Regions from separate parts of the Homo sapiens genome. Here all the other regions are linked to region 2. The links come from fine-mapping of genetic effects on gene expression. A gene starts in region 2. Each other region holds a variant in brackets. All regions are shown on one strand. Distances are from middle to middle. Region 1 has its middle 22 kb from the start of AQP3. Region 2 holds the start of AQP3 (aquaporin 3 (Gill blood group)). Region 3 overlaps LOC105376020 (a long non-coding RNA gene).

Region 1 (6,700 bases), 22 kb before region 2:
GAGACGAGGTTTCACCATGTTGGCCAGGCTGGTCTCGAACTTCCAACCTTAGGTGACCCACCCGCCTTGGCCTCCTAAAGTGCTGGGATTACAGGTGTGAGCCACCGCACCTGGCCATTTTTGCCTCTCTTTTTTTTATTATAAATGCATAGCTTTTATTCTAAATGTAATAATGCCTACCAAAGAAAATGCGAAAACTACAAGTAAAAACAAATTGCTCACAATTCAGAAATAACATAATGCCTATTAATGCTTTCACTTCTTTTCATCCATTAATCTTTCTAAGTGCTCTACTGACATAATTGAAAATAATTTCCCATAAGCCTGTTGGTATAATGCCCTTTTTAGCTAATGCCATGATGATAGATTATCAACTCCAGAAGTATTATTTTAATAACTAAGAGACAAACCATACTTTATTTAACTACCTTCTGTCACTGTCACTGAGTAGTTTGTTTCCAACTTTTAAATTTTTTATTTTTTTATTCATAAATATACATTTGTATTTCAGTGTTTCAATATTATAAATAACATTGGAATGATCTTTGGGCAAAGGCTTTGTCTGTCTCTGCAATTACTTTCCCAAGGATCATACTCAGAGATGAAATAGCTGAGGAAGGAATATGAGAAATATCCAGGTTTGTTTTAATTTTTAATCCTTTATATATTTACCTTTTTTTTTTTGAGACAGGGTCTTTGTTGCCTAGGCTGGAGTGCAGTGGCACGATCTTGGCTCACTGCAACCTCTGCCTCCCTGATTCAAGCAGTTCTCATACCTCAGCCTCCGGAGTAGCTGGGATTACAGGCATCCGCCACCACGCCTGGCTAATTTTCGTATTTTTTTGTAAAGACAGGGTTTTGTCTTGTTGGCCAGGCTGGTCTTGAATTCCTGACCTCAAGTGATCTGCCCGCCTCGGTCTCCCAAAGTGCTGGGATTACAGGTGTGAACTACCACCCTGCCTATATTTACCTCTTGAATCCATCGATTTTATGGCATGAGGTAAGAATCTAGTTTTTCGGCCGCCCCTACTGGGAGGTGAGGAGCCCCTCTGCCCAGCCAGCCGCCCCGTCCGGGAGGGAGGTGGGGGGGTCAGCCCCCCGCCCGGCCAGCCGCCCCGTCCGGGAGGGAGGTGGGGGGATCAGCCCCCCGCCTGGCCAGCCGCCCCGTCCGGGAGGTGAGGGGCGCCTCTGCCCGGCCGCCCCTACTGGGAAGTGAGGAGCCCCTCTGCCCGGCCAGCCGCCCCATCCGGGAGGGAGGCGGCGGGGGGGGTCGGCCAGCCGCCCCGTCCGGGAGGGGGGTGGAGGGGTCAGCCCCCCGCCCGGCCAGCCGCCCTATCCGGGAGGTGAGGGGCGCCTCTGCCCGGCCGCCCCTACTGGGAAGTGAGGAGCCCCTCTGCCTGGCCAGCCGCCCCGTCCGGGAGGGTGGTGGGGGGTCAGCCCCCCGCCCGGCCAGCCGCCCCATCCGGGAGGTGAGGGGCGCTTCTGCCCGGCCGCCCCTACTGGGAAGTGAGGAGCCCCTCTGCCCGGCCACGACCCCGTCTGGGAGGTGTGCCCAGCGGCTCATTGGGGATGGGCCATGATGACAATGGCGGTTTTGTGGAATAGAAAGGCGGGAAGGGTGGGGAAAAAATTGAGAAATCGGATGGTTGCCGGGTCTGTGTGGATAGAAGTAGACATGGGAGACTTTTCATTTTGTTCTGTACTAAGAAAAATTCTTCTGCCTTGGGATCCTGTTGATCTGTGACCTTATCCCCAACCCTGTGCTCTCTGAAACATGTGCTGTGTCCACTCAGGGTTGAATGGATTAAGGGCGGTGCAAGATGTGCTTTGTTGAACAGATGCTTGAAGGCAGCATGCTCGTTGAGAGTCATCACCACTCCCTAATCTTAAGTACCCAGGGACACAAACACTGCGGAAGGCAGCGGGGTCCTCTGCCTAGGAGAACCAGAGACCTTTGTTCGCTTGTTTGTCTGCTGACCTTCCCTCCACTATTGTCCTATGACCCTGCCAAATCCCCTTCTGCGAGAAACACCCAAGAATGATCAATTAAAAAAAAAAAAACAAAAAAACAAATATTTACGTATGATAATGAGAAGAACACTGTCCTAGATGGCTGAAATGCTAATAGTCTTTAATTCACTATTTTCTTATTCTGACTGTTGCAAAGATTTGTAGTTTTATTGATGATTCTCACTCATGTTCTAAAATAGGAGTTGGCAAACTATTGGCTGCCTGTGTTTATGAATAAAGTTTTCCTAGAACACAACAACAAAAAAAAAACAAACAAAAAAAAAAAAGAATCTAGTTTTTGCTTTCCAGAGGTGAGAAGAAGGGGTCTTCTTCAGGAACCCCGAGCCCCATCCTCTTAGCCCTCAGTTTATGTTTTTTTTTTATTCTTTATTTTTTTGATTCTTTTTTTTTTTTTTTTGAGACGGAGTATCGCTGTGTCGCCCAGGCTGGAGTGCAGTGGCCCGATCTTGGCTCACTGCAACCTCCACCTCCTGGGTTCACGCCATTCTCCTGCCTCAGCCTCCTGAGTAGCTGGGACTACAGGCGTCCACCACCACGCCCGGCTAATTTTTTGTATTTTTAGTAGAGACAGGGTTTCACTGTGTTAGCCAGGATGGTCTCTATCTCCTGACCTCATGATCCGCCCGCCTCGGCCTCCTGAAGTGCTGGGATTACAGGTGTGAGCCACGGCGCCCGGCCTTCCCTCAGTTTCTTGAAACTCCCTTGGAGAACAGAAGATGAAATACAGAGTTGACATGTCATGCCCAGATTCCCTTT[T/G]CCCTAATTACAAGAAAGTGTTTTCCCTGTTCCGTGAGTAACTAACTGCCTTTCTCTAAGTGGCCTCACTCTGATGAGTAACTGAAAATGCACTTCTCTGTTTGAACTTTGTCAGAAGTGTCCGTGCCAAAAAGCTTTGAAATGCTCAAAAGTACATAAAATAGAAAGGGACCGCAAACATAAAACAGGAAACAAACAAGTTAATCAAGTGCTTAGCATAGTGCCCAGCACATATTAAGGACTTGGTAAATGGTATTTATTAACTCAACAGACATTTATGGATTTCCTACTGGAAGTCAGGCACTATGGGGACTTGGCAGTGACCAAAACATAGTTACTGCCCTCCCACAGCGTCCTGCCTGGTGGGCAAGACAGCCTTAAACACATGATTACACGAATGGTGGTTAGTTATAAGTGTTAAGTGTCAAGGTACTGGGGGGCTATCACATCAGGATAAGGGGACACTGATGAATTATAAGGTTACACTGGGGTCGGGCATGGTGGTTCACGCCTGGAATCCCAGCACTTTTGGAAGCCAAGGAGGGCAGATCACCTGAGGTCAGGAGTTTGAGACGAGCCTGGCCAACATGGTGATACCCCGTCTCTACTAAAAATACAAAATTAGCCGGGCATGGTGGTGCATGCCTGTAATCCCAGCTACTCGGGAGGCTGAGGCAGGAGAATCACTTGAACCTGAGAGGTGGAGGTTGCAGTGAGCTGAGATTGGGCCATTGCACTCCAGCCTAGGTGACAGAGCGACGCTCCGTCTCAAAAAAAAAAAACAAAAACACAGTTGGGGTACGGTGGCTCACACCTGTAATCCCAGCACTTTGGGAGGCCGAGGTGGGCAGATCACCTGAGGTCAGGAGTTCGACACCAGCCTGGCCAACATGGTGAAACCCCGTCTCTACTAAAAATACAAAAAAATTAGCTGGGCATGGTGGTGCACACCTGTAATCCCAGCTACTTGGGAGGCTGAGGCAGGAGAATCACTTGAACCCGGGAGGCAGAGGTTGCAGTGAGCCAAGATCTCGCCATTGCACTGCAGCCTGGGGGACAGAGTGAGGCTCTGTCTCAAAAAAAAGGGGATATATTGGGGAATTCTAAAAAGGAAAATAATTGTCATGTTAATAAATGGAGATTTTAGGGCCAGGCTGGGCAGAGGCAACTGCCAGTTGTCATGAGTGCATGCAGAGAAGATTCAGGGCTTCCTGGAAAAGGCTTCTACCTGGTATTTATTTAATACCCTGGGAATAAGTGCCTAGGCCCAAGGCCTAGCCCACCTAGAGGTCAAAATGAAGCATCGCTTGCCAGGGCAGACGGCAAAGCTAAGTGTAGCAAATCCAGGTCAGGAAGCCCAGAGGAGGCCAGAGGCTGGAAAGGCAGGGGCAAAGTCTCAAATGTGGGCACATGTTGAGCATGTCAAAGAGAAAGACACCAAGGGGACCTCAGTGAGGGGCTTGAGATCAGAGGATGTGGATGATGATCGGGAGGAGGCAGAGGTAGGGCAGTAGTGGTTGACTAACAAAGGGGCAGCAGGAGGGTGGTGACAGTCCAGAAGACTTAGAGATGATGGGGACTGAGATAGGTGGTAAGAGCGGGAGACTATGTTGGGGCTGTGGCAGCAAAGGTGACAAGGTGACAGGGTCGGGTGGGGACAGTCAAGGTGACAGGAGAGATGGGAATGAACTAGCAAGTGACAGGTTGGGTTGGAGGTGGTTGACAAAGGGTTGGTCCAGATAGCCACAGGCTTGGGCATGGGGCAGGGGCAGGGATGGTGGCAATGCTCAAGAAGGTAACACGATGATGGGAACTGGGTCAAGTGACAGCGTGGGTAAGAAAGGGGCAGTGGTTGTGATGCAGGGATGATGGTGAGGGTGACAAATGAGTGACAGGGTCAGAGAGGAGTGATGACCATCAAGGTGACCCAGGGGTGACAGGAAGTGTGGGTGGCAATGATGTCTGTGCCAGTAGCAAGTCAGAGACACCCATCTAGCCCCCCTCCCCTGGGCCTGTTTCAACAGCGGAACTGTTTCCTAGGCCGCAGGTCTCATGACTCAGTACCATGTATCAGCCATGCCGTGGATAAGATCTCTAGGTGGAGCCCCAGCCGTGGGGGCAGGCTAGGTGCCTGTGTCGGCTGTGCCCAGGCCCATCGAAGGACCCAGGCATGGAACCTTAATGTCATCTCTGCCTCCTCCCTCCTGGGTCCACATCCACTCCAATCTGGGGTTGGCCACAAACACTTAGCCTCCTTCTCCTTACAGACTACAAAAGTTCTAGCCAGAGCTTTGTCTATTCCACCAGGCTTCTTCCACGGCTGACCCCATTAGAAGTTTCTGGGCCTCTAATTCTTTCTCGTAACTATCCCCTGTGGGGAGAGAGAAAGGAAGGTGGACTTCAAGAGGGTTCTGAATAATCCCATCCATTCATCCCACAAATATTTATTAAACTCCTTGCAAGGTACTAGGGGCTGACTTGCACAACCAGACCTGTGTCCCTGTCTCCATGAAGCTCAGTCTGGAAGAACAATGGCAGCGAATGGCAGCCACCATTGGGACAGTGCTACTTACTTGTAACAGAGTGGGGCAAACTTTTTTTTTTTTTTTTTGAGACAGGATCTCACTCTGTCACCCAGGCTGGAGTACAGGGGTGTGATCATGGCTCACTGCAGCCTTGACCTCCTGGACTCAAGCGATCCTCCTGCCTCAGCCTCCTGAATAGCTGAGGCTACAGGTGTGTGCCACGACACCCGGCTATTATTTTTTATTTTCTGTAGAGACAGGGTCTCACTATGTTGCCCAGACTGGTGCAAACTGCTTTTTAAACCATGAAGAGACCAGGCGCGGTGGCTCACGCCTGTAATCCCAGCACTTTGGGAGGCCGAGGAGGGCGGATCACCCTAGGTCGGGAGTTCGAGACCAGCCTGACCAACGTGAAGAAACCCCATCTCTACTAAAAATACAAAATTAGCCGGGCGTGGTAGCGCATGCCTGTAATCCCAGCTACTCGGGAGGCTGAGGCAGGAGAATCGCTTGAACCCAGGAGGCAGAGGTTGCAGTGAGCCGAGATCATGCCATTGCACTCCAGCCTGGGCAACAAGAGTAAAACTCCATCTCAAAAAACAAAACAAACCAAACCAAAACAAAACACAACCCTGAAGAGAGTGGGTCTCATTAAAGGAAATCTTGGGGACTGTGCCAGTGACCCTTCGGCTAAGCTAAACACTGTATAAAAAGTAATTTAGAGTATAGTGAGCAATCAGGAGAGAGAAAGTAAGGAGGGGGGGATGGGAGGGTAGAGAAAACCAGCAGTGTGGCCAGAGGCAGGGGTACTAAGTGGGGTGAAGGGGCCAGGGAGAAATAGCCTCTGGTGGAGGAGCCAAAATGATTTCGAAGAATAGAGATGTTTAATATTCAATTTGAACGTGTTGTACAAGGTAAATTCCCCACCAGGCACGGAGGTTCACGCCTGTATTCCGAGCACTTTGGTAGGCCAAGGTGGGCAGATCATTTGAGGTTGGGAGTTTGAGACCAGCATGGGCAATATGGCGAAACCCTGTCTCTACTAAAAATACAAAAATTAGCCGGGCGTAGTGGCACGCGCCTGTAATCCCAGATACTTGGGAGGCTGAGGCAGGAGAATCTCTTGAACTCGGGAGGTGGAGGTTGCAGTGAGCCAAGATCATGCCCCTACATTCCAGCCTGGGCAACAGAGCAAAACTCCGTCTCAAAAAAAAAAACAAACAAAAACAAAACAAAACAAAACAAAAAACCACCAAAGTAAATTCCCTCTGTCTCCCCAAACTTTCCACACAGTTTGTTACTAACAAAGAAGTTTGTTACTTCCAGGGCTGGGCACGGTGGCTCATACCTGTAATCCCAGCACTTTGGGAGGCCGAGGCAGGCAGATC
Region 2 (6,700 bases):
TCGCCACCACTGGGAGGACTAGAGGCGCTTCCTGGAACCCAGCCCAAACCCCTTCTGCTGTAATTGCACTTTCCAGAAAAAGGACACATGCCTTCCCACCCCACTGTCCCAACTCTAATATGAGAGGGCCCTATGGAAAGGGCTGGAAGCAGGGTCTGCGACTGGGATCCTAGAAGATGACTGAACCATCTTCACTGATTTTCCTTGAATTTCAGCAGGCGTAGGTGTAGGGGAACAGCTTTCACCTTAGCACAAGTTTCTCCACAGCCCTTCAGGCCTGGACCATAAAGGTGGGAAGCCTCTCACTCATCCCCCAGCTGCCCCAAAGAAAAGCTCATGTAGGCCCGGTGCAGTGGCTCACACTGTAATCCCAGCACTTTGGTAGGCCGAGGTGGGTGGATCACCTGAGGTCAGGAGTTTGAGACCAGCCTGGCCAACATAGTGAAACCCCATCTCTACTAAAAGTACAAAAATTAGCCAGGCGTGGTGGCAGGTGCCTGTAATCCCAGCTACTCGGGAGGCTGAGGCAGGAGAATCACTTGAAAATGGGAGGCAGATGTTGCAGTGAGCCAAGATTGCGCCACTGCACTTCAGCCTGGGCGACAGAGCGGGACTCCATCTCAAAAAAAAAAAAAAAAGAGTTGAAAAGAAAAGCTCATGTGGTGGTGGTAGTGGTGGCAATGGGCGGCATAAATAAATAGGGAGGAGACCAGAAGTGAGGTTGAATCCACTTCTCCTGAGTCCAGGATGCCAGAGCCCCAGCCTTCACCATGTCCCCCTCAACAACCTCCCCTTCCTTTACCTGTCCCTGTCCCAGCGTCTCCTCTCTCCACCCATGACCTCTCTGCTCTCAGGGGTCCAGATTCCCCACTCAGATTTGGAGGTCCTACAGACAGGGATCTGTGTGGCTCCTCTCACTATCCCCAGCCCGGGACCCAGGGCTGTAGAAATGGGGAGATCGGTTCTAAACTTTCTGCCAAAAATGGGGGAACTAAAAGAGACTAAGAGCCCTGGTGTTCTACAAATATAGAACATACTGGAGCCAGCTGTGGTGGCTCACACCTGTAATCCCAGCACTTTGGAGGCTGAGATGGGAGGATCTTGAACCCAGGAGTTTGAGAACAGCCTGGGCAACATAGTGAGACTTTGTCTCTATTTAAAAAAGAAAAAGAACGTACTATGTCTGTTCCCCTTGTTCAAGCCTGAAAATACTTCTGCAGCAGCTGTAAAGCATTGTTGCCCTGAGCCCCCTGAGTGTCCCTCAAAGCTGCTCCAATGCCTTGCCCTGGTCTCCTCTCCCACCTGCCCATAACTAAAGGTTTTATGCCCACAGAGCAGGCAGTTTCCAGGACCTGTGCTACAGACCTTGTTTATTCTGACGGGTCAGTGCCTGTTGTACTGGATAGTTAAGCATTTTGATTATCATCCCAGAAAGACCAAGAGATAACGGAGAAGCCAGCGGCAATGACATGGGGCAAAGGTGTGCAGGCAGGTGAGAGCAAAGATCAGAGATTGCAGGTGTATGTGTGAGGAGGGGTGGTGGGAGACAGGCACGTGAGGGTCTGAGGCGCCCTGCCCTGCTTGGGAGGCCCTGGCAGCAGCTCCTTGCCTGCCAAAGGCTCAGACCTGGCTCCATCCCAGGACGCCTTGGAGGGAGGAGCTGTCAGAGCCAGTTCCACCACCTTGGGGCTAATCTTCCTCTTCCTCCCCCAACCCCTGCCCTGAGTTCTCGGCCAGCACCGCCCCCTGCCCTCACACCAGGTATCTCAGAGAAAGGGGCTTTCCTCACCCCAAAGCCAACCCTGATTCTGCCACTGCAGGCCTAGGCTCCCAACACGCAGGTAGGCAGGCAGGCACTCACCCACTACAAAGGGATCCCCAGGCCTGCCCCTCCAGTTCATGCAGTCCTTGAAGTTCTGCTTCTCACTGATATCCAATACCTCACATCCATCTGAGTCTGCAACCCTTCCCCTAAAATTTAACACTCTTCTTTTGTGGTCTGGGATAAGCCTGATGATCCTGGGGCTCAGTGGGAGGACTAACGGCTCCTTTGTGAGAGAGTGAACTGAGACTTGGGAGGGAATGAGGAGGCCCCTCTAGGAAAATAGAAGACATCATCCTCCCCTAGCCTGGCTGCTCTAAAACAGGTGGCTGGACTCAGGACTCCGATAGGAGTGAGGGCTCCGAGGCAGGAGAGTGATAAAGGCCACCTCCTATTGCCTTCTTGGCACAGGAGAGAGGGGCTAGGGCTGGCTGATAGGACGACTAATCTTATGGGAGGCTGTGGATAAAATGCCCCCTGTGGCTTCCCCACTTCCTATTCTTGGAAGCCAGAAGTGGGTTTCAGCCCTCCTCTGCCCATAGATCCTGATCCTCAACCATTTGGGGATCCCTACTTGCCCTTAGTTAGGCTTCCTAGTCCACAGTGGGCCAGCTGGTCTGTACTACCCAGGGCTGGGGCAGGAACGGAGTAACCCACTCACTGCAATGTAGCAACTGAACACAGAGGAAAACAGGTGTAACCACATGAGCGGCTGAAAAATCAGAGTAACTGGGACAGGAAATAGAACATAACTGGTGGGTCTGCCAGACCTAAGAAGTGCAAACAGAGTCACTCAGAACAAAACCAGGGTGAAACTGGTGTGACCAAGGAGTAACTAGGACTGAGGAGTAACTCAGGCAGGGAAATGCTCACTCAGAGAACCCACAGAGTAACCAAGAGGCCAGGGAGTAACCAGAATGCTTGTCGTCTTCTGCACAGACGCTGACAGCATCTGTCTGGATAACAGACAGGGCCTGGGAGTCGCTGAGCACCAGGTGAGCAACTTTAGACACGCGTCCTCTGTGCCTGGGCCTAGCTTCCTCCCACCCTTCTACCGTCAGAATCTGCCTCCCTTCCCACTTCGCTGTTCGCAGCCCATGTGGCCTGCACCCTCTGCCCCCACTCGTGCAAACTGTCCTCACTCACTTCAACCTTTGGACTTTTTGAGGCTTAATTATTCATTAGAGGCCAGACACCCAGGACCCAAATAACCTAATAATGGCTCATTTGCCTCCGCCCCCTCCCCTACATCTGGGGGCTGGGATTCTGGGAATCTGGAGGGGTGTGGGAGGCAGGGGAAGTGGCTGGCTGTCCCAGACTGCAAGCGTGACCGCTGCCCCCAGCCTGTTGGCTGAGTCACTTGTGGGAGGGTAAACGATCGGCACTATCACTGGGGAGTAACAGCTGTCATTCTGGCAAGAGTCGGAGCTGTCAGAGAGGGGGTTAGAACCGTGGGGAAGAGGACTTTGGAAGTCAGCTTGATCCTCCGCGGTTAAGCGTGGGGGTCACAGCTGGGGAGGTGGGTCCAGGCTACCTTGGAAAACACAGCCCCTTCGGGGAAGTGAGAGTTTGGGGAGTGCAAGGGCTGGAGAGAGAAGGGCTTCCCCGGCTCCCTCCACTCACCACCAGGATGAGGGTCCCCAGGCACTCGGCCAGCGCCTGTCGGAGCAGCCGGTAGCGGATGTGGAGCATCTCCCCGCAGCGGGACACCAGCTCCTTCTGTCGACCCATGGCGGGGCAGGCGGCGGCGCTGTCGGGCGGGCAGGGGTGGCGGGAGGCGGTGGCGCAGCGAGCAGCGGCCTCCAGCGCTGGTGGCTCCCTTTATAGGAGCGCTGGAGACACGGGCCCCGCCCGCCCTGCAGCCCCGCCCTGCAGTCCCGGAGCGCCGAGGAGTGCGCGCCCCCTCGCCCCCGCCCCACCTCGGCTGGGAGGCTGGTGCGGACGCCGGGTGGAGGGAGCTGCGGGCATGGAGTGTGAGGAGCTTTGAGGGACGGGTGGCCTTCGGAGGGCGCTTAAGGGAGGGGACGTCAAGGGGGCTGAGAGGCTTAGGCAGATCTGAGAGCCAATGGTGGGATTATAGGCAGGGTTCAGGGCCATGGCTGGAGAGGATGCAGCTGTCATAGAGACCACCTGCGCCCTGTGATCACCCCACTTCCTTGCGGGCAGGAGGAGACCTGTCAGAAAGAAACTGGCCGCATCTCTCCAGGATGACTGGACCCAACAGATCCTCAGTTCGAGGCAGGAGGAGGAGGCTGCGAGCCCCAAGTGAGAAGCAACACTGTCTCTTCTGTCAGGACAGATAAGGCACCGACCCTTCAAGGGGACAGCTAGTGTCAGAGGGGCAGCAGTCCAGACTCAGGTGGGCACACAGACACACGTGCTGAGTTCCAACCAGACTTCATGGGCCCTTCTCCCTGTGCTATGAGCACGTCGTGTGTCGCATGTCCTGGCCAGCTATGTCCACAGCTGTGTCTACACATGGCGGATGTCCTGTGTGCCTAATTGTACGGCTGGGCATTCCTCGTGGCTGTGCACATGCCTGTTGAACATGGCTAGGTGACCTAGCTTGTCACACGTGTACCTGCGTGCATTGCTCACATGGCTCCAGAGGCTGAGCTGCAGTTGCCCCGACATGCCACATGCCACATGTTTGCCAGCAGGCTGAGTCCCAGCTGTTTTTAACCCTCTCCTCTCCCATCTGACTTACCCCCAGCCAAGGAAGAGTCTGTCTCTTTTTTTTTTTTAGACGGAGTCTCTCTCTGTCGCCTAGGTGGAGTGCAATGGCGTGATCTCGGCTCCCTGCAACCTCCACCTCCCAGGTTCAAGTGATTCTCCTGCTTCAGCCTCCCGATTAGCTGGGATTACAGGTGCACACCACCATGCCCAGCTAATTTTTGTTTTTTTAGTGGAGATGGGGATTCACCATGTTGACCAGGCTGATTTCGAACTCCTGACCACAAGTTATCCACCCGCCTCAGCCTCCCAAAGTGCTGGGATTACAGGCGTGAGCCACTGAGCCCAGCAAGTCTGCCTCTTTAAGCAAACTTAATTATGGGGGAGTCAGCCCTATCTGAGGGGGATCATGGGACAACCTTGCCCTCTCTCTCTTTTTAAAGAGTAGGGTCTTGCTCCATCACCCAGGCTGTGGTGCAATCACAGCTCACTGTAGCCTCGAACTCCTGGGCCCAAGTGATCCTCCCACCTCAGCCTCCAGAATGGATGGGACTATAGGGACTATGTGCCACCATGACACTCAGCTAATTTTTAAAAATCTGTTGTAAAAATGAGGTCTTGCTATGTTGCCCAGGTTAGTCTCAAACTCCTGGCTTTAAACGATCCTCCCACCTCGGCCTCCCGAAGTGCAACCTTGCCCTCTATGCTGCTTTTAATAACAAGGAAACATCTGGTGGCCTGGGAGCAAACAACATGCCCTTAGGCTGAGCTTCTATGGCAGCATTGCCAGAGGAGATCAAAGAAATCATTTTCCAGAGGGACTTAATCCAGGTGGGCTAATGACCCTGAGGACTTGTCCCTTGAGGGACGAATATGAGAAATAAGGGCCCCCGGCTGGGCGTGGTGGCTCACGCCTATAATCCCAGCACTTTGGGAGGCCGAGGCGGGCAGATCACCTGAGGTCAGGAGTTCAAGACCACACTGACCAACATGGTGAAACCCTGTCTCTACTAAAAATACCAAAAATTAGCCGGGCGTGATGGCGGGTGCCTGTAATCTCAGCTGTTCGGGAGGCTGAGGCAGGAGAATCACTTGAACCCAGGAGGCGGAAGTTGCAGTGACCTGAGATCATGCCATTGCACTCCAGCCTGGGCAACAAGAGCCAAACTCCATCTCAAAAAAAAAAAAAAAAAAAAGGGCTCCCACGGTTCATTGAGAAGCGAGCAGGGCTAGTGCAGAGGTTCTTCTCCCAGAGGGACCAAAAGAGAGAAGGGTTAGTCCTGTCGTCCTTGATCAGAAATGTGATCAGCACCAAGAAAGCCCCAGGGGCCACTGGGACCTACAGTCAAACTATGTTAGGTGACAGGACCATTGACATTTCAGGACAGATAGGCATGGACCCTTCAAGTGGACAGGTTGTGTCAGGAGAGGTAGCAGAAGAAGCTAAACAAGCTCTTAAAAACATGGATGATGACTCACTCCAGCCTCTAGCTCATGGGATCAAACAATCCTCCCACCTCAGCCTCTCAAATAGCTGGGACTACAGGCATGCATCACGATGCCCGGCTAATTTTTGTATTGTTTGTAGAGAAGGGGTTTCGCCATGTTGGCCAGGCTGGTCTGGAACTCCCGAGCTCAAGCAATTTGCCCACCTTGGCCTCCTAGAGTGCTTGGATTGTAGGATTATGAGTATTGCTAAACCCATCTCTTTGGGCATCAACCACCTCTGCCACATGCCTGTAATCCCAGCTACTCGGGAGGCTGAGACAGGAGGATCACTTGAACCCAGGAGGCAGAGGTTGCAGTGAGCCAAGATCACCCCACCTGGGTTCAAGCGATTCTCCTGCTTCAGCTTCCCGAGTAGCTGGGATTACAGGCATGCACCACCATGTCCAGCCAATTTTTTTGTTTTTTGTTTTTTGTTTTTTTTAGTAGAGACGGGGTTTCACCACGTTGGCCAGGCTGGTCTCGAACTCCTGACCTCAGGTGATCCACCCGTCTCGGCCTCCCAAAGTGCTGGGATTACAGGCATGATTCACCGTACCTGGCCTAGATAGGCATGTTAAAAAAGAAAAGAAAAGAAAGGAAATAAGGGCTCCCAGTCCCAGAGGTGGTTCATGCCCAAAGAGATGGGTTTAGCATACACATGAAGTAGATTCACATACATGCAGGTGCTTGCGCATACACACACACAAACACACAGAC
Region 3 (6,700 bases), 34 kb before region 2:
TCAAACTCCTGAGCTCAAGCAATCCACCCGCCTCGGCCTCCCAAATAAGTGGAATTATAGGTGTGAGCCACCACGCCGGCCCTGATGTATCAATATTAAAACATTTTCTTCAGCCTACAAGTTCTTCTTTTTCTTATTTGGATGCAAACTAAAACATTTTGTGGGCCCTTAGATTGAACATTCTCATGGGTCCTGTGCCTCCTGTGCGTCATGGAGAAGGCAGCCCTGCATGGCTCTCACATCCTCTTCCCCCACGCAAATGCTGCCACCTCCCCAGCCTCCATCTCCAGCCCGGAGCTCAAGAACAAGTGGTCCAGCCTCCTCTCTTGTTATCTCGTATGTGTAACAAGCACATTACCTTCACCTGCCCCAACCCAACCTCACCTCCCCACAGTCTGCCCCCTTCCCAAGGGCCTAGCCCAAGGAATGCTCCTCCCCACCACATCTCTGAAGCTTTCCCTCCAGGAGTCACTCAACTACTCCCTCTCTCGTGGCCCCCTCAATCAGCCCCAAATCTAATCTCCAAGAGCCTCTCCACGGGTCTCCCGGTCTGCATCCCCCTTGAAGTAGGAGGCGGGACTTGACTCCAGAGGTGGGGCTTGGACACTGGACCAGATTGAGGACTAGCTAAAACAGGGCTGGAAGCAGCTTTCTAATCAGACATGCGCCCCAATGTGCCATGTTAATTTATCATTGCCATCTCAACACCTGGGAGTTATCACCCCTTTCCATGGCAATGACCCAATGGCCCAAAAGTTACCACCCCTTCCCTAGGAATTTCTGCATAAATTGCCTCTTAATCTGCATACAATTAAAAGTGGGTATAAATATAACTGCAAAACTGCCCTGGGCTGCTGCTCTCCGCCTCTGTATAGCCCTGCTGTGCAGGGGCAGTCATGGAGCTGTAACACTGCCGCTTCAATAAAGCTGTTTTCTTCTACTTCTCTCTGCATTGCCCTTGAGAGGCAAAGCCGAGAACCCTCGCAGGCCAAGCCCCACTTTGGGGCTCACCTCTCCTGCATCACCCTCACTCATTCTCCATTTTACAGCCATTTTTTTCCCCTTTTTGAGACGGAGTCTCGCTCTGTTGCCCAGGCTGGAGTGCAATGGAGCGATCTCAGCTCACTGCATCCTCCACCTCCCAGGTTCAAGAGATTCTTGTGCCTCAGCCTCCCAAGTAGCTGGAATTACAGGCACCCACCACCAGGCCCGGCTAATTTTTGTATTTTTAGTAGAGATGGGGTTTCACCATGTTGGCCAGGCTGGTCTCAAACTGCCTATTTTATTTTATTTTTATTTTTCTGAAATATGTTAAATTCCAGCTACTCTGTCATTTCATTCCTACATTCTTCAGTGTTCCCTCTAAAATATAGGAACATTTTCTTAAATAATCAGTGCCATACCTGACAAAATATACAATTCCATAGAATGATCAAATACTTGGAATTGTTTCAAAGTGTCTTTTTGCATTGATTTGTTGGATTGTTTGCATCAGGATCCAAACAAGGTCACACATTACGTTGGGTTAAATGTTCTCTTAAACAAGAGGAATTCCCCTTTCTCCATCATTATTTTTTCATGTCATTGACTTGCTGAATAAATGTAGTCCTGTAAGAGTCCCACATTCTAGATTTGTCTGTGTTTTTTCTTTGTAGTGTCATTCAGCTTTTCCGTCATCCCCTGTATTTCTTTGAGTAAGTGGCTGGGCACAGTGGCCCACACCCCTAATTCCAGCACTGTGGGAGGCCAAGGCAAGTGGATCATTAGAGCCCAGGAGTTCAATGCCAGCCTGGGCAACATGGAGAATTCCAATCTCTACAGAAAACACGAAAATTGCCAGGCGCAGTGGCTCACACCTGTAATCCCAGCACTTTGGGAGGCCGGGGCAGGCGGATCATGAGGTCAGGAGATCGAGACCATCCTGGCTAACATGGTGAAACCCCATCTCCACTAAAAATACAAAAAATTAGCTGGGCGTGGTGGTGGGCGCCTGTAGTCCCAGCTACTCAGGAGGCTGAGGCAGGAGAATGGCGTGAACCCGGGAGGCGGAGCTTGCAGTGAGCCAAGATCACACCACTGCACTCCAGCCTGGGCGACAGAGCGAGACTCCATCTCAAAGGAAAAAAATTAGCCAGGCATGGTGGCATGCACCTGTAGTCCCAGCTACTCAGGAGCCTGAGGCAGCAGGATCACTTGAACCTGGGAAGTCAAGGCTGCAGTGAGCCATGTCTGTGCCATTGAGCAAGTCCCTGTCTCAAAAAAAAAAGAAAAAAAAAAAGAGAAAGAAATAAAAAAAAAATATGAGAAGTCAGCTCTGGGCTGGGCGCAGTGGCTCACACCTGTAATCCCAGCACTTTAGGAAACCAAGGCAGGAGGATCGTCTGAGGTCAGGAGTTTGAGACCAGCCTGGCTAACATGATGAAACTCCGTCTCTATTAAAAATACAAAAATTAACTGGGCGTGGTGGTGCACGCCTGTAGTCCTAGCCACTGGGGAAGCTGAGGCAGGAGAATCACTTGAACCCAGGTGGCAGAGATTGCAGTGAGCGAAGATTGCACCACTGCACTCCAGCCTGGGCAACAGAACAAGACTCTGCCTCAAAAACAAAAAAAAGTGGCCAGGTGTGGTGGCTCACTCCTGTAATCCCAGCACTTTGGGAAGCTGAGGCGAGAGGATCACCTGAGGTCAGGAGTTCGAGACCAACCTGGCCAACACGGTGAAACCCCGTCTCTACTAAAAATACAAAAAAATTAGCCAGGTGGGGTGGTGGGTGCCTGAGTAGTCCCAGCTACTCAGGAGGCTGAGTCACAAGAATTGCTTGAACCTGGGAGGCAGAAGTTGCAGTGAGCCAAGATTGTGCCACTGCACTCCAGCCTGGGTGGCAGATCAAGACTCTGTCTCAAAAAAAAAAAAAAAAAAAAAAAAGAGCTCTAATGGTGTATGGTTTATTTATTTTTTATTAATTTTATTTATTTATTTATTTTGAGACAGCGTCTCACTCTGTCACCCAGGCTGGAGTGCAGTGGTGTGATCTCAGCTCACTGCAAGCTCTGCCTCCCGGGTTCACGCCACTCTCCTGCCTCAGCCTCCTGAGTAGCTGGGACTACAGGCACCCACCGCCATGCCTGGCTAATTTTTTTGTATTTTTAGTAGAGACAGGGTTTCACCGTGTTAGCCAGGATGGTCTCGATCTCCTGACCTCATGATCCGCCCGTCTTGGCCTCCCAAAGTGCTGGGATTACAGGCGTGAGCCAACACACCCTGCCTGGCTTTGTTTATTTTTTTGAGACAGTCTCGCTCTGTTGCCCAGGCTGCAATGCAGTGGCGTGAATGTTGCTCACTGCAGCCTTGACTTCCCGGGTTCAAGTGATTCTCTCAGCTGGGACGACAGGCGCATGCCACCATGCCACGCTAATTTTTGTATTTTTTGTAGAGATGGGGTCTCGCCATGTACCCAGGCTGGTCTCGAACTCCTGGGCTCAAGCAACCCACCCACCTCGGCCATCCAAAGTGCTGGGACTACAGGCACGAGCCACCGCGCCCGGTCTGGTGTGATTTTATTTAGGTTCAGTCTTGCATGTGGGCTGG[A/G]GCAGCGGGTCCTCTGTGGAGGTGCTGCATGCTTCCTATTTCATCCCATCAGGAGACACGTCATGTCTAGCTGCCCATGCTCAGTGATGCCAACTGCTCAGTGGCTTCAGGGAGTGACAGCCTGACCCCTCCATTGTCACATTCCCCCCGTCCCCCGCATCAGTACTTCGCCTTCTGCTTTTATTCTTTGATTTCTGCCTAAACCCATTTCATAATCTTTCCACAGTAAAGCATTTTAAAGGAAAAGCTCCAAGCAGCAATTTCCTAACCCACAGGAAAGAAAGAGTCTAAAAATGGTAGAGACTCAGGTACCAGGTTAATCGGAGCAGGGAGGAGGCTCAGGATAAGGGACGCATCATGAGAAGGAGGAAGGAGAGACTGAAGTGGTGGCCGGAAGGAGCAGTGGAAAAACCCAGAGACCTCCTGGCCAGGAGCCTGAGTTTGAGGCTGGTTTGAAGTTTCCCTACTCAGGGCCCCACCTGGGTGTGAGTTGTTTATAGCTCAGGCTTTTTAGACAGACAGACCTGAACTTGAATCCAGCTCAGCTTCTTAATCAGCATTGGGTGACTTAAAGCAAGAAATTTAACTGGGCTTCTTCATCTGTAAAATGAAGATATGAATCCTTATCTTGCAGGGTTGTTGGGAGAATGGACTGAGTGGGCAGGGGGCATGGCAAGGGCCTGGTAGAGTAAACTCTCTGGGTGGTGGGTAGGAAGCCCATCTGAGGGAGGGAAACTCTGTACTCCACACCTCCTGTCCTTCTCCTGCCCTAACAGATTCTTGCCTGATGCCAGGGCCAAACTAGAAGTGCTGGGAGTAGAGTATAATATGCTCATTCTGCAGACAGCAAGAGCAATGCTCAGGGACATCCACCTTCCTCTTCAGCCGCTCCAATGGTGTGTCTGGTCTCCCAGCCCTTGCCATTGCAGCCTAGTGGCTTAGCTTTCTGGACTTGAACCCTTGGTCACCCCCTCAGTCTAGGGGCCAGGCTGCCCCAGGCACCCTGCAATTGCCAGCCCAGTTAACAGGCAGCCGACTCACTGAGCGGGTGGGGGTTCCAGGCATGACAGGGCCTTGGGCAGGCTGCCTCCTGGGGACAACTGGCTTGCTGAGCCCGTGACGGGTGGGGCCATTTGATTCCCAGACGATTTCTCCTACACTGGGAACATAGCAGATGCACAATAAATGTTGAGAGAATGGAGCTTTCCCCCACTGAGTGGGAGAGAAACAGTTTGTCAGGTGACTCTGCCTGTGGGGGCGTCCTGGGCATCCCCAGGAATTCACGGCTCCAAGCCCTTGAGCCCTGGGCGAGGGGGTGCGGGGGAAGCACCTGGGGTGGGGCAGTGAGCCGGGAGCTCCTCCTTTCTCCTGTTCCAGCCTGTCTACTCCCGCCCTGCACGCCCCTACCCACAACCCTGGCCCCTAGTTGAGCCTCTCACTCCTTTCACAGCAGCTGAGGCAACCCAGCCAAGAGCCTCAGTGAGATGGGTTTGGGTAAGGTGGAACCTTAACCCCCAGACTCCCAACCTCATCCTGTTTTCAGCACCCATGAGACTGGCTCTAGCACCCCCTGCTGGCAGCCGAAGCTGACTCCTTTAGCCTGAGTCCACTGGAGGTGTCACCCGTGCGTCCCCAACTCCAGTCCCCTCAAGGGCTCCACCCGGCCCAGCCCACATGCCTTTGTTGTGGCTTCCAAGTTTTCTTTTCCACGTCACCTGCGCTGCTTGCTCTCTGGTTTTGTTGACTTTAGTGCTGTCTCTGTTTGCTCTGGCTGAGCCAACAGCCTCAGGATGAAACTCTGAGCCCAGGAAGTGTGAACCTGAGAGGCAGCAGGCTGGGGGTGGGGACGGAGGCAAATGAGAGACAGGGTAAGATCTGAGCTGGTTCCCGGGCTCAGGCTGGAGTTCATGGCAGCTCACTCCAGCAGCAGGGTCGGGGCCCATGGGCAGGGATGGGTGGAAGGATTTTTCCAGCCTCACTGAGAGCAGGTCTTGGCCTGTCACATCACTGTTTTGAAGTTTATTTGGAAGCTCAGCCCCAGAACTCTAATGCCTCACATCTCCAGGAGGTCTGAACCCCTCTGTGGGGCAGTGCAAGTTCCCTGGAGGCTGCGATCTGATTTCAGCCCCTAGTCCTTCAACCGAGCAACACAGGGGACACCACCATCCCCCATAGGAAGCCTCCAGGACCGAGCTTTCCTGACTTTCCGTGCGCCTCCATGAGAATCTGTTACCCAGCAGCCTGGCAAGGTGACCCCACAGGGATTATTGCCCCTCTACAAATTGAGCCCCAGACATGGTAAAGGGACATCTCCAAAGTCACCAAGTGAGAGCTTCCTGGCTCCTAGTCCAGACTCTTTGGCCCTCTTCAAGCATCTCTCAGATCATGGAGTGTGATGGGAAGGCAGCACCAGGCCCCAGGTGCCGGGGCAGGGGCCAACACACCAAGTTGTGGAGTGTGCATACAGTGCCACACAAACCAGGGGCATGCGCAACCTGGGGCTGACGTGCTCACCCCACAGCCCCTCAGACCAGACGCAGCCAGGACCCTCACGTCCCTCCTGCCTGCAGAGGGGGTAAGAGAAAGCAATGACTGAGTGCCCACCTGCCACTCACTGCTCCCAGCCTGCCTGTGTGGCCTGTGGGGTGTAAATGCCGTCTCAGGGTTAGGACAGTGGAACCACCCTGGCCTGCAGCCGGGAGCTTAGGGATAAGGTTAGGGAAGCTGCTGCCGTCACCACAGGCTTAGGGTGCCCAGCTCTGCCAGCTGATCCAGCCAAGTCCTTCTTGGGGAAGATGAGCTGTCATTAGAGAGCCCTTCCCACCTCTCAGACCTCCGCTTCTTATGGCTCGACAGGCTCTGAAGCTGCAATCCTTCTTTTCAGGAAGACACCTGTCACATGTGCGTGTGCTCTGGGAAGTGCTGTGTGTTCATCCACACTACCTCCGCCCATGCCACATGCCCCCTTCGCACCTGTGGCACACAGTCTAGGGGGCTGTGTGCCTGGGGACTCCCTATGTATGCTCAGTCAGACACGGGTACACATCTTGGACCCAGGTGTGTAACACAGCATTGCGCCCATATAGGTGAACACACAGGTGCTATATTCTGC

What was found. PIP is the estimated chance that this variant, and not a neighbour inherited with it, causes the effect.
Region 1: its variant is fine-mapped to the expression of AQP3 in lung (GTEx, PIP above 0.99). The same link has a PIP of 0.9 or more in pancreatic islets and subcutaneous fat.
Region 3: its variant is fine-mapped to the expression of AQP3 in whole blood (INTERVAL, PIP above 0.99). The same link has a PIP of 0.9 or more in blood mononuclear cells.

The regions. Positions count from the first base shown.
Region 1 is chr9:33,422,362-33,429,061 of GRCh38, forward strand. No RefSeq gene overlaps it. Among named protein-coding and RNA genes, the nearest start is that of AQP3, 22 kb to the right of the region's middle. The variant T/G (reference allele first, on the strand shown) is at 2,788.
Region 2 is chr9:33,443,978-33,450,677 of GRCh38, forward strand. AQP3 (aquaporin 3 (Gill blood group)) reads right to left here and starts at 3,616. Exons shown (of 6, transcript NM_004925.5): 1 at 3,446-3,616. The coding sequence starts at 3,553. RefSeq lists a silencer at 3,602-3,791.
Region 3 is chr9:33,410,434-33,417,133 of GRCh38, forward strand. LOC105376020 (a long non-coding RNA gene) reads left to right here. Exons shown (of 3, transcript NR_188543.1): 3 at 1-117. Among named protein-coding and RNA genes, the nearest start is that of AQP7, 11 kb to the left of the region's middle. RefSeq lists enhancers at 4,141-4,672, 4,673-5,203. The variant A/G (reference allele first, on the strand shown) is at 3,589.